3 linked regions of the Homo sapiens genome follow. The protein of the gene in region 2 purifies or fractionates together with the protein of the main gene of each other region. This does not show direct contact. Each region holds a gene or a part of one and is shown on either strand. Other genes may lie near its edges. The genes, in order: PPP2R2C, TMTC3 and COTL1.

The links.
Region 1: the proteins of TMTC3 (region 2) and PPP2R2C purify together in Homo sapiens (co-immunoprecipitation; one large-scale study listed by IntAct). This does not show direct contact.
Region 3: the proteins of TMTC3 (region 2) and COTL1 fractionate together in Homo sapiens (co-fractionation; one large-scale study listed by BioGRID). This does not show direct contact.

The regions. Positions count from the first base shown.
Region 1 is NC_000004.12:6,322,602-6,326,254, forward strand, and holds part of PPP2R2C (protein phosphatase 2, regulatory subunit B, gamma), read right to left. Parts: intron 993-3,653; coding exon 701-992; 3' UTR 1-700. UniProt on the Homo sapiens protein: The B regulatory subunit might modulate substrate selectivity and catalytic activity, and might also direct the localization of the catalytic enzyme to a particular subcellular compartment.
Region 2 is NC_000012.12:88,194,199-88,197,391, reverse strand, and holds part of TMTC3 (protein O-mannosyl-transferase TMTC3), read right to left. Parts: intron 2,555-3,193; coding exon 1,743-2,554; 3' UTR 1-1,742. UniProt on the Homo sapiens protein: Transfers mannosyl residues to the hydroxyl group of serine or threonine residues.
Region 3 is NC_000016.10:84,611,426-84,615,078, forward strand, and holds part of COTL1 (coactosin-like protein), read right to left. Parts: intron 1-3,653. UniProt on the Homo sapiens protein: Binds to F-actin in a calcium-independent manner. Has no direct effect on actin depolymerization. Acts as a chaperone for ALOX5 (5LO), influencing both its stability and activity in leukotrienes synthesis.

The sequences.
Region 1 (3,653 bases), on a different chromosome or scaffold from region 2:
GACACAGGCACACAGAAGACAAACCCCACTCCGCTCCTCTCGGGAAACCGCACCAGACCTGGGACCTGGGATGTTTCAAGACATTCAGAAGACCTAGGAGAGGAGCTTGCATCTGCAAATTCTCAGCATGAATTCACCATCCAAAAAACAACGGTGAGGTCATCAGCTCTGAGACAGGGCGAATTGCCCCATTTATAACCAAAAGAACCCCTGGCTGGCTCGTTTGAGACTCATCATCTGTCCCTGGAGCCCTGATCTGGGACCAGTGAGGCATGGGGGAGAAGCAGCTCCCATCAGCTCCGGTCCCTGCAACAGGACGCACTGGAGTGAAAAATTAACCCGGACGCATAAAAAGTCCTATTGATGTGGTAAAGACCGCAGACCGAGACAGGAAGGGACGTGAATGAAAGAACCCTGAACTGTAAGACTCCACAGTCATGTCCATTTTATGATTTGTGGCGGTGAACGCTTCCTTTCCTTTTTATTTTTTTAAACAGACAATTACTGCCAAACACAATTCTGGCCTAGGAAAGCTGGGGCAGGGAGGGGGCCCAAACTTCCTGTGTCCACACACTGCCACCTCTGCAGCTGTCCTCATCAGTGCTGTGACTTTCTTCCCCTCCTTGCATTGCGGTCGTGAAGGTCATGTCGGGGATGACTTGCATGAGGCTGGGTGGCAGGGGCCGGGAACTGCACATACCTAGTGCATGTCAGAGTTTACCTTGTCCTGGAAGATGTACAGGTTGTTGGTGGCGGCGATGGCAATGATGTTCTCAGCCGGGTGCCAGGCCGTGTGCAGGATCTTCTTGGTGAAGTCCAAGCTGTCCACACTGATGTCATCACGCCGGCGCTTGCCCCCCACGCACACGCGCCGTGGCTTGAGCACAGCCCGGGGCTTGCTGCTTTCCCTCGAGGCCTCCAGGGTCACGTCCCGCTTGGTGTTCCGATCGAACATGCGGAAGAAGTTGTTGTAGGCCCCGGTCATGATGACGCTGGTGGGAGAAGGAGAGGCATCAGGTGAGGAGGAGCACAAGCCCCTTCTCGAGAAATAAGCCCAGGTGTGGGGGCTCACGCCCATAATCCCAGGACTTTGGGAGGCCCCGGTGGGAGGATTGCTTCAGCCTAGGAGTTCAAGACCAGCCTGGACAACATAGCGAGACTCCACCTCTACAAAAAAAAATTAAAAATGACCGTAGTCCCAGCTATTCAGGAGGTTGAGGCAGGAGGATCACCTGAGCCTGGGGAGGCAGGAGGATCACCTGAGCCTGGGGAGGCAGAGACTGCAGTGAGCTGTGATTTACCACTGCAGTCTAGCCTGGGTGACAGAGTAAAACTCTGTCCCAAAACAACAAACAAATGAAAAAGCAATCCCAGAGCCTACAGAGCCATCACTCCCTGGAAAGGGAAACCACACCTGCCTCTATTCCCCTGTATCTTGGGGTCTCTTATACCCCCTCACATGTCAGCTGCCACCAACATGCAGACTTTGGGGCCAGGAGCTAAGATCCTTTTTATCCTCTGCCCCAATCATCATGAAAATACCCTCCTGGCCAGGCGTGGTGGCTCACACCTGTAATCCCAGCACTTTGGGAAGCCAAGGCGGGCAGATCACCTGAGGTTAGGAGTTTGAGACCAGCCTGGCCAACATGATGAAACCCTGTCTCTACTAAAAATACAAAAATTAGCTGGACATGGTGGTGGGCACCTGTAATCCCAGCTACTCAGGAGGCTGAGGCAGGAGAGTTGCTTGAATCCAGGAGGCAAGGTTGTAGTGAGCCAAGATCGCGCCACTGCACTCCAGCCTGGGCAATAAGAGCAAAACTCCGTCTCGAAAAAAGAAAAGAAAAGAAAAGAAAAGACCCTCCTGTAATTTCTGTTAGTCCAGGAGAGAAAGCTCTGGCCTTCCAAACAGACTGTGCAACCACAGCAGGAGGTAGACATGGAAGCAGCTGGGACAGAAAACCACCAGGCCCTGCTTCCCTCCAGGGGCCCGCCTGTCCCGAGGACTCGGGCGAATAAACAAACATGCATCGCCATGAGGGTCGGGGCGAGCAGTGCTGACGTGCAGGGGCTCGCTGCCCTCACCGTCCCGCTAAAGAGAATTCCACACCATTTCTCTGCTCTCCCTGCTCCTAAGGAGAAGGGGTTCCTGCCGGTGGGAGGAAGGGTAAGTTCATCCACATAGTAAGAGGCAGGAGAGAAAGCACAGTTCTGTGGGCCTGCGCCCAGAGGGAGGGTTTTGGGGTTTGGCCTCTGCAGGGCCCTGGAGCAGCTGTGAGGTGCAAGGTAACTGGGGAGGAAGAGGATGTTACGAAAAGCGACCATAAAGAAGTTGTCCTGCTGAAGGCTCTTCAGGGAGGAAATCCTGTTTCCTTTTGGAAGCTGAGCTGGGCTTCCTGAGGGTGACACTGCTCTGTGACAGAACCAGGTGGATCCCTGGGTCTCCAGGGGTTATGCACAGAGGACAAAAGCTCACACGTGAGCTCCGGCACTGCAGTCAGGGGCTTGGGCTCTGGCCAGTCCGCCTGGGTCCGGATCCCAGCTCTGCCCTACCCTGACATGCGCACTCTCTTAGTTTTCTATAAGAACTGGGATCAACAAGGGAACGCAGCCCCTGGTGAGCGTGAATCAGGGGACATAGGCTGAACACCCCGCACAGTGCTGGGCTTGAGGCACTTTGCTTCTTGTTATTTACCAGGTACTCCTCGATCCTAATCGTCCATGTGACCAAAGCCGCACCCGCTTTATATGTGACTCAGAGCCTGGGACAAGGGAAGCAGCATGCGAGGGGGGCCGGGTGAACGAGTCCCACAGAAGGGCCCTGCCCAGGCGCCACAGGCTGACTGGGGGAGGCCACACCCTCCCCGCGCCAGCACAGTGGGGAGGCAGCCCCCTTTGTTCTTCAGGGAACAGTTCACAGAATGAACCTGGGTGATTTCACACAATGCTGGTTCTTCTGATCCATTTAGTGGAAGGAGAGCGACATAATTAAAGTCATTTGCAACCCACACAGTTCCTGATCCTCCCCCTGTTCGGGTGTGGAATTCAGCTGACACGTGCTCTGGGGGAGAGGGAGGGGCCCCTCTCATCCTAGAGCACCAGGCCGCACCACCATGAGAGCCATTCCTCACATTCAGGCAGGTTTCTTAAATTCCAGAAGGTTCCCTTAACAGGGAAAAGGGCAGGGGAGCTGCTTCACCTCTCCTAGCCTCATCTGCATGTGGGACCACAACGCCGGCTGCTTTCAGCCCCAGTGCTCCGCTCCTCTTTCCTTTGGGGAAAGAAAGGCTCCTGCCCTCGCCACCCGTGGCGCCTGTAATCCCAGCTACTTGGGAGGCTGCGGCAGGAGAAGTGTTTGACTCCAGGAGGCGGAGGTTGCAGCGAGCCGAGATGGCGCCACTGCACTCCCTATCCCTGTGAGCGGTCAATCACAGTGCTCTCCTCGCCCCTTGGCCTGGCCAACTTGGGCATGTGATATCCCTGTCCATGCTGATTGGTGCAAAAAGTGGGCAAGTGACCCACACAGAGCCAATCAGATCCTTCCATGAGAGTTTTACACAGTCCCTGGGAGGGGTTGGCTGGCTGAGGATAATGGAAAGGGGAATGATTTGGGGGTCATCTCTGAAGAGGGAGAGGATGAGGCCAGTGTGTAA
Region 2 (3,193 bases):
AAGCCATAACCTAAGAACTGAAATTAGGCATTGTTTTTGGATGCTTAACAGAATCTCCTAGATCAAGACCAACTCCCACTGGTATCAGTGCTTGCTTTAAACTACCTAAAAAAAAAAAAAAAAAAAAAAAAATCTATGGCAGATCCTTAGGGAACCTAGTAAGAGTGGGTCTTCTAATGCAGACCTTGTATCTTATGACCTATTTATAAAACAATTCTTAAAAAAAATACAGGATATGGTTTTTGAAACATATATAATTAGAAATTAGTTATCTCAAAGGAACTAAAAAATATATAGTTTTGAAATACTATATAATTAGAAATTACTATCCCAGGATGATAGCCAGAGCTTTCATATTTTAAATTAGAACCAACTTTTTAAGGTATTATAAAGCTCATTTAAAATGTACTTTAATTCAAGAAAAAAAATCAGGTATAAATTAGTAAGTTTAATTTGTAACTACTTTTTAACCTATTTTTCAGGTTTAAATTTGCCCAAACCAACTGAAAAATTTATTAATACTATAGTAGGCTAATTATCTTTTATATCCAGACATTAGGCCAAAAATGATACAATTCTGGTTAATCCATAATATATGCATATATAGGAAAATGCAATAGTAATTTGTTTTCCATACTTGATGATTAAAATAGCTTCAAATATTTTATGAAAGCTTAGTCAAAATAAATATTTAATAAAAAGATATACCATAACAAAATATCAAGAAGTTAGTGTTTGAAAATAAACTGTCACGTTGTTTTGCTTTCAGTCAAACAGAACTGAATTCAGTGGCTTAAGGTATCTAAGAATAATTCAATTGTGACTTTGGAAACAAAAAAATTAAAATCCAGGTTAAGACTACAGAGCTAACACAAAGATGAAAGAGAAGTTTACTACGTTATAACTCAAAAGTTTAGAGTTATTGGGACTTCTCAATGACTACGATCTAAGAAACATGAATAATTTGGGGAGTAAAAGTAAAAAAAAAAAATCATGATTATGTGATTCATGTTGTGACACTCTCAATAAGTAAAACTAAACAACAAAAAATACAGTATATATGAGCACCATTAAAAATGTGTGTATGTAGCTATACATGTGTCAAACTTTACCTGATTAAAAATTACATTTAAAGTTAAAAACAAGTATACAATTATGAAAATACATTCTCAAGCTAACATGTCATGACTTATTTTAAAATGTTTCATCAAGCATTCCTTCTAAAACTCAACTAAGGAATACAACATAAAAAAAGCCAGCATTCTTTTGTAGTGTAAATCCCTTGATTAAACAGAATTACTTAAGTGTTTTCAATTCATAGTTAGATTCTAAGAGGTGCAAGAAAAATGAAGTAGGCAAATAAATGGGAATTAACAGAATAAACCAGCACATGTTGGATTTGTCCTCAAGGGATTATCATTCAGGCCTCAAAATTATTTTTAATTGAGAGCAGTAAAGATTACATTGCCAGAAACACCTTCTTTCTATAATAAAAGTTGTAAATTTGTCACTTCCGCTGTAATATTTCTGCTATATTCACCCACACTCTGAAAACAGCGATACATAATATACATCCTGGGATAATACAGGTCTTTAATGAAAATCTTATTTTGATCCTACTTCAAGGCAGCTCATGATTGACCATTAGGAACCCTTGAACTTTTTTTCAAAGCTCCCAGTAAAAGCAATCACATGATACGGATTGATGTTCTTTGATACCATTGTCACGATAAATATTAATGTTATTCACCATTTAAAATACGTTCAATCTCTTCTAGTCTTTTTAAAGCAGCAACTCTTTTCTTCTCAATTTCTTTGATGTCTTTTGTTGTTTTGTGGGGTGTCTCTTCGTCTCCATTTTTTCCTAATTGTTTGTTGGATTTAGACTGACTTTTATTATCACTTGTTTTTACTATTTGTGTTTGTCTGGATTCACCTCTAATTTCTTTTACACTTTCAGTTGGAATTTTCTTTCCTTCCACACTTGAAATCTTACTGGTTGGGAATATTGGCTCTATAAAACTAGATGAGGAAATCTTATCCCTGACTATATTCAAATGGCGCTGAATATATTCTTCATGTGGTGCTAATGCCAGTGTTTCAAGAAGGCATCTTTCAGCTTTTAATAAGTCTTTTTCTTCAAAATAAACAACACAAAGATTGTGTTTTCCTTGCACATTGCTTGGATCCATCTCCAAAATCCTTTCAAAACATTTTTTTGCTCCTAGTATATCTTTCTTTTGATTCATCAGAATGTCTCCTTTTAAAATGAGGCCCTTGATATGATCAGGGTAGTATCTGAGTAACTCCTCCAAAATTGGCAAAGCCTTTAATTCCTTTGCAGTCTGGGAATACAGGAGAGCCAGATTAAACAAAGCACTTCGGAAGTCGGCTTGTAACTTTATGGCTTTCTTCATCCAAATCTCTGCTTCATTGTCCTTTTTGTCATCCATGGCAAGCATTCCCAAATTGAAATACCCATTAGCATCTAGTGGCTCTTCATTTATATAACTTAGAAGTCGTTTTCTAGCTTCAGGTCTGAGTTTAACCTCACCTAGAAAGTTTTTTTAAAGAAAAAATATATTGTTAATAAAATAATTAAATGTGAGGAACAAAGCCATTTTCAAATACTTAGATTACAAAAAGACAGCTTCAAAACAACTAATTTCCATAGTTAAAAAAAGTAGAAAGCAAAAATCTCGAAGTCTTCATAGGAAAAGCAAAATATTTGAAACAGTAAAAAGATAGCTTATTTCTTTTCCTTTAAAGCAGTAACAGTGCTTCAGAAACCAAAAGGAGAGAAATGTCTCTTATAATTTAGAATTCAATTGGAAATAGAAGGAAAATAGAGAATTCAGAAAAAGAAGCATGGGATTTGCCAACAAAGACATGTATTCAATCTTGATTCTGATAACATTATGACTTTATACACTGAACATGTTACTTAACTTCTCTGGGTTAACTGAGTTTTCTAATAATTGTATGTTGTATATCGAAAAAATGTTCAGCAAATAGTAACTATTACTGGGTAGAAAAAAGCTTCAGAATGACTGTATCACATTTTAAAAAATGTTACTTCAAAGTTTTAGGAATGTTTCGAGGACAAAAACATACCATTAAATATAGGGCTATAAAATTAGGATTTAGGAAACATGTATCTTCTTTTTTTTGAGACAGGGTCTCACTATGTCAC
Region 3 (3,653 bases), on a different chromosome or scaffold from region 2:
TTGTGGGAGGTGGCTCTAAAATATCTATGATCCCCTTTTGTAGTAGAATTACATACAGAAAACTATTTCAAGAATATAGATAAAAATGAGACCAGCGGTCTGTCCTGGGAGATGACAATAAAATGTCAGCTCCACGAGGACAGGCGCCTTTTCTGCTTCTGTATTTATCCTCAGTGCCTACAGTCGTGCCCCACAGAGTAGCAGTCCCATATGTCGAATGAATTAAATGAATAAACAGGAGAATGAAGGAATAAACACAGGAAGGAACAAGTTCCTGAGTGTTTGCAAAACTATATCTGAACTATATCTACTTGGTATTCTCTTCTTTTGGTTTAGTCTTGCTTTATGAGTATGCCACAGAGAATATGTATTATCTGAATGGTGCAGAAACAAAATGTGATTTCACAGACAGCCCCAGCCACTGCCTCGCCACACATACGTGATCTGTAAGCCCTTTCTGCTGTGGCCAGGTAGATCATACAACCGGTCTGGCAAATGGCCCCTTTCCCTCCACCTCTGCCAGCTGAGCCCTGATTGCTCCAGGCTCCCAGTGGCTCTGTCAGGTGAACCTGTGACCCTCCAGCCCAGCTCAGCACCCATTTCCTTCCCATCATCTCTCCCCCTTCCATCTTCTTGGTGCTCTTGAACGCTACTTCCACATCACTTGAATTCCAAAAACAAAAATGGCAATCGCAGTAATTGACATTTATGGAGTGCTCACTATGTCCCAAGCAGCATAAGGACTTGCTTCCTTAATCCTCCTAATGACCACACTGTAGCAGGTTACCAGATGGGTAACTCACCTGCTCCAGAGCACATGAATGGCAGGTATTTGAACCCAGGCAATCGGACAAAACCCAAACCTTGAACTACTGAGCTAAGCACCTCTCATCATGCTCCTTCATGCAGACCCGGGCCAAGGGTCTAATGCGTGTCCACATGGGGCCAAATGCCTATTGCATACCAGCCTGGGCCAGGTGCCTACTTTGTGCTGAGTGGGGACGTGTACTGAAAGCTTCCGAGTGGAAAGCATAATGCCTCTACGAGTGCTATCAGAGTAAAAATAATTATTTGAGGCCGGGCGCGGTGGCTCACGCCTGTAATCCCAGCATTTTGGGAGGCTGAGGCAGGTGGATCACCTGAGGTCAGGAGTTTGAGACCAGCCTGGCCAACATGGTGAAACCCCGTCTCTACTAAAAATACAAAAACTTGCCGTGTGTGGTGGCACATGCCTGTAGTCCCAGCTACTTGGGAGGCTGAGGCAGGAGAATCTCTTGACCCCGGGAGGCAGAGGCTGCACTCCAGCCTGGGCGACAGAGAAAAACTTTGTCTCAAAAAAAAGAAAAGCAGTGGTAGGGGTAGCCAACACACACCGTGGCCTGTGCTCTCATTTTAGGTGCATTACTTCAGTGAACCCTCCCAGTCACCCTCAGAGGTAGGCATGTCAGGATTCCCATTTTACAGACCTAAAAACTGAGGCACAGAGGGAGGGAGGCACTTGCCCAAGGCCACACACACAATGAGTGAGAAGCAGAGCGGAGATGTCAATCTAGAATGACTCTTTCTTTCTTTCTTTCTTTCTTTTTTTTTTTTGAGATAGAGTCTCACTCTGCTGCCCAGGCTAGAGTACAACAGCGCGATCTCGGCTCACTGCAACCTCTGCCTCCTGGGTTCAAGTGATTCTCCCGCCTCAGTCTCCGAGTAGCTGGGATTATAGGCGCCGGCCACCATGCCTGGCTAATTTTTGTATTTTTAGTAGAGACAGGGTTTCACTGTGTTGGCCAGGCTGGTCTCGAACTCCTGACCTCAAGTGATCCACCTGCCTTGGCCTCCCAAAGTGCCGGGATTACAGGCATGAGCCACGGCGCCCGGACTAGAGTGTTTCTGATTCCAAAGTGTACTCAGAGTTGAAATGAAGAAGGAATCACACTAAGCTAGGTGGGTGGCTGAGTCCTAAATGAGTTGAGATGGGGAAGAGGAATACCGCATGGTAGAAACCTCCAAAATCAAAAGCACCAAGACGGGAAATGTTACAGTGTTGGGCTGCAGATGTGTGAGGGAGGGTGTGTGGAGCTACTAGAGAGGAGATATGGGTGGGGACAAACCGACTAGAAAGCCAAGCAGACAGCATGAGTGTAATCCAATGGGGCAGAAGGGAGCCATAGAAGGTTAATGAGCAGAGGAGTGACTTGATTAGAAATGTACTGTAGAAAGAATTACCCCAGCAAGGGAGGACAGAGTGGATACCAGACAAGGAAGATTAAGGGCAAATAGACTGTTGCTATGAAGAGGAAAGCAGAGATGTTAAGGGGCAAATGGACACTTTTGTGAAAGTGGCATGCCATTCTTCCCTAGGAAGCCACCTCCTCAAGTCAGTCTCCTGGTTTGAGTGGGGCTGCCCCGCCCCCCACCCACTCCAGAGGTGGGCATGTGATCCAGGCCTGGCCACGCAGAGTCTCCATGATTGGTCTAGGGATGGGCACATGACCTCAGGGCCAAAGACAGTCCAGGGACCCCCAAAATCACTGGCAAAGAGGCTTGCTCCGTCTTTCCACCAAGATGGCTCTGCCCAGGGGCTAAACCTCCCCCCTCCCCGCAAGAATGGAGGTGAAGGATGAAGACAGAGCTAGGAGGAGGAGGAGAGGCTGTTTGGAGTTCGGGCAGTCTTTGCTGCTGCTAGGACTTCCCCTGGAGTTTCCAGGCTAGAGGCCACAGTGGATTTTCTGCTTACATTAATCTGCACTGGGCATTTCTCACCGCCCTCGCAAGGTCTCTGACCATCCCAGGCGAACTGAGCTATGGAGCAAGAAGCAAGAGCGGAGGTAGCGGAGGGGCAGGCAGCGAGGAAGGCCGGGAGCCAGGCAAGCTCGGGAAGAAGCAGCGCAGACCCAGAGCAGGCAGAAAGATTGGGAGGATGAGTGCGGGGGTGGGAGGGAACTGGCCTGGCAGCACAGACACCCCGTGGCCCTCTGGAAAACAGCTCTGAGGGAGGAAAGGCCAGGCCAGGAGGCTGGGAAGAAATGAGGAGGGGAGGCTGGGTGGAGAGATCCCATTCTGGAAAGCCGTGGGGGAGGAAGGGGAGAAGGGACAGTAGCCTGAGGTGGGAGGGCCAGGGAAGGGGGTGTTTCAGAGAGAATGCCTGAGTGCCAGAGTGGGGAGGGTTGGGAGAAGAGCAGGACCCCAGGAAGGCCCACACCCTGAGGTTATAAGGAAGAAACTGGGTGCTGTTTCTGGCCTTCCAAGTCTGCTGGCCACCTTGTGAGATGTTTGGAAGCAGGAAGCCCGAACCAGAGTGGAACCTTTCTTCTCAGGCCTGTCAGGATACCTGGCAGGGAACTGGGGCCACAAAAGAGCCCTCTCTGAGTCACAAGTGGGCAACCATGTCATTTGCAACCTGCAAGCAATCCCACGAGAGGTGAGAATCTAAACAACCTCCTCAGAAGCCAAGAGCACCTGCCCCGAGCCAGCCTGCCTGGGTTCAAGTCCCAACTCTGCCACTTTCTAGCTGGGTGAATGCAGGAAGCCTATTAACCTCTCTGGGCCTCCGTTTCCTCATCTGTAGAATAGGAGTAACCTTAGTACCTGCCACACCAGGCTGTTCTGAGGTATGACCAAGATAAGGCACGTCGAGCGTGGTGACTGCTATCCAGCCA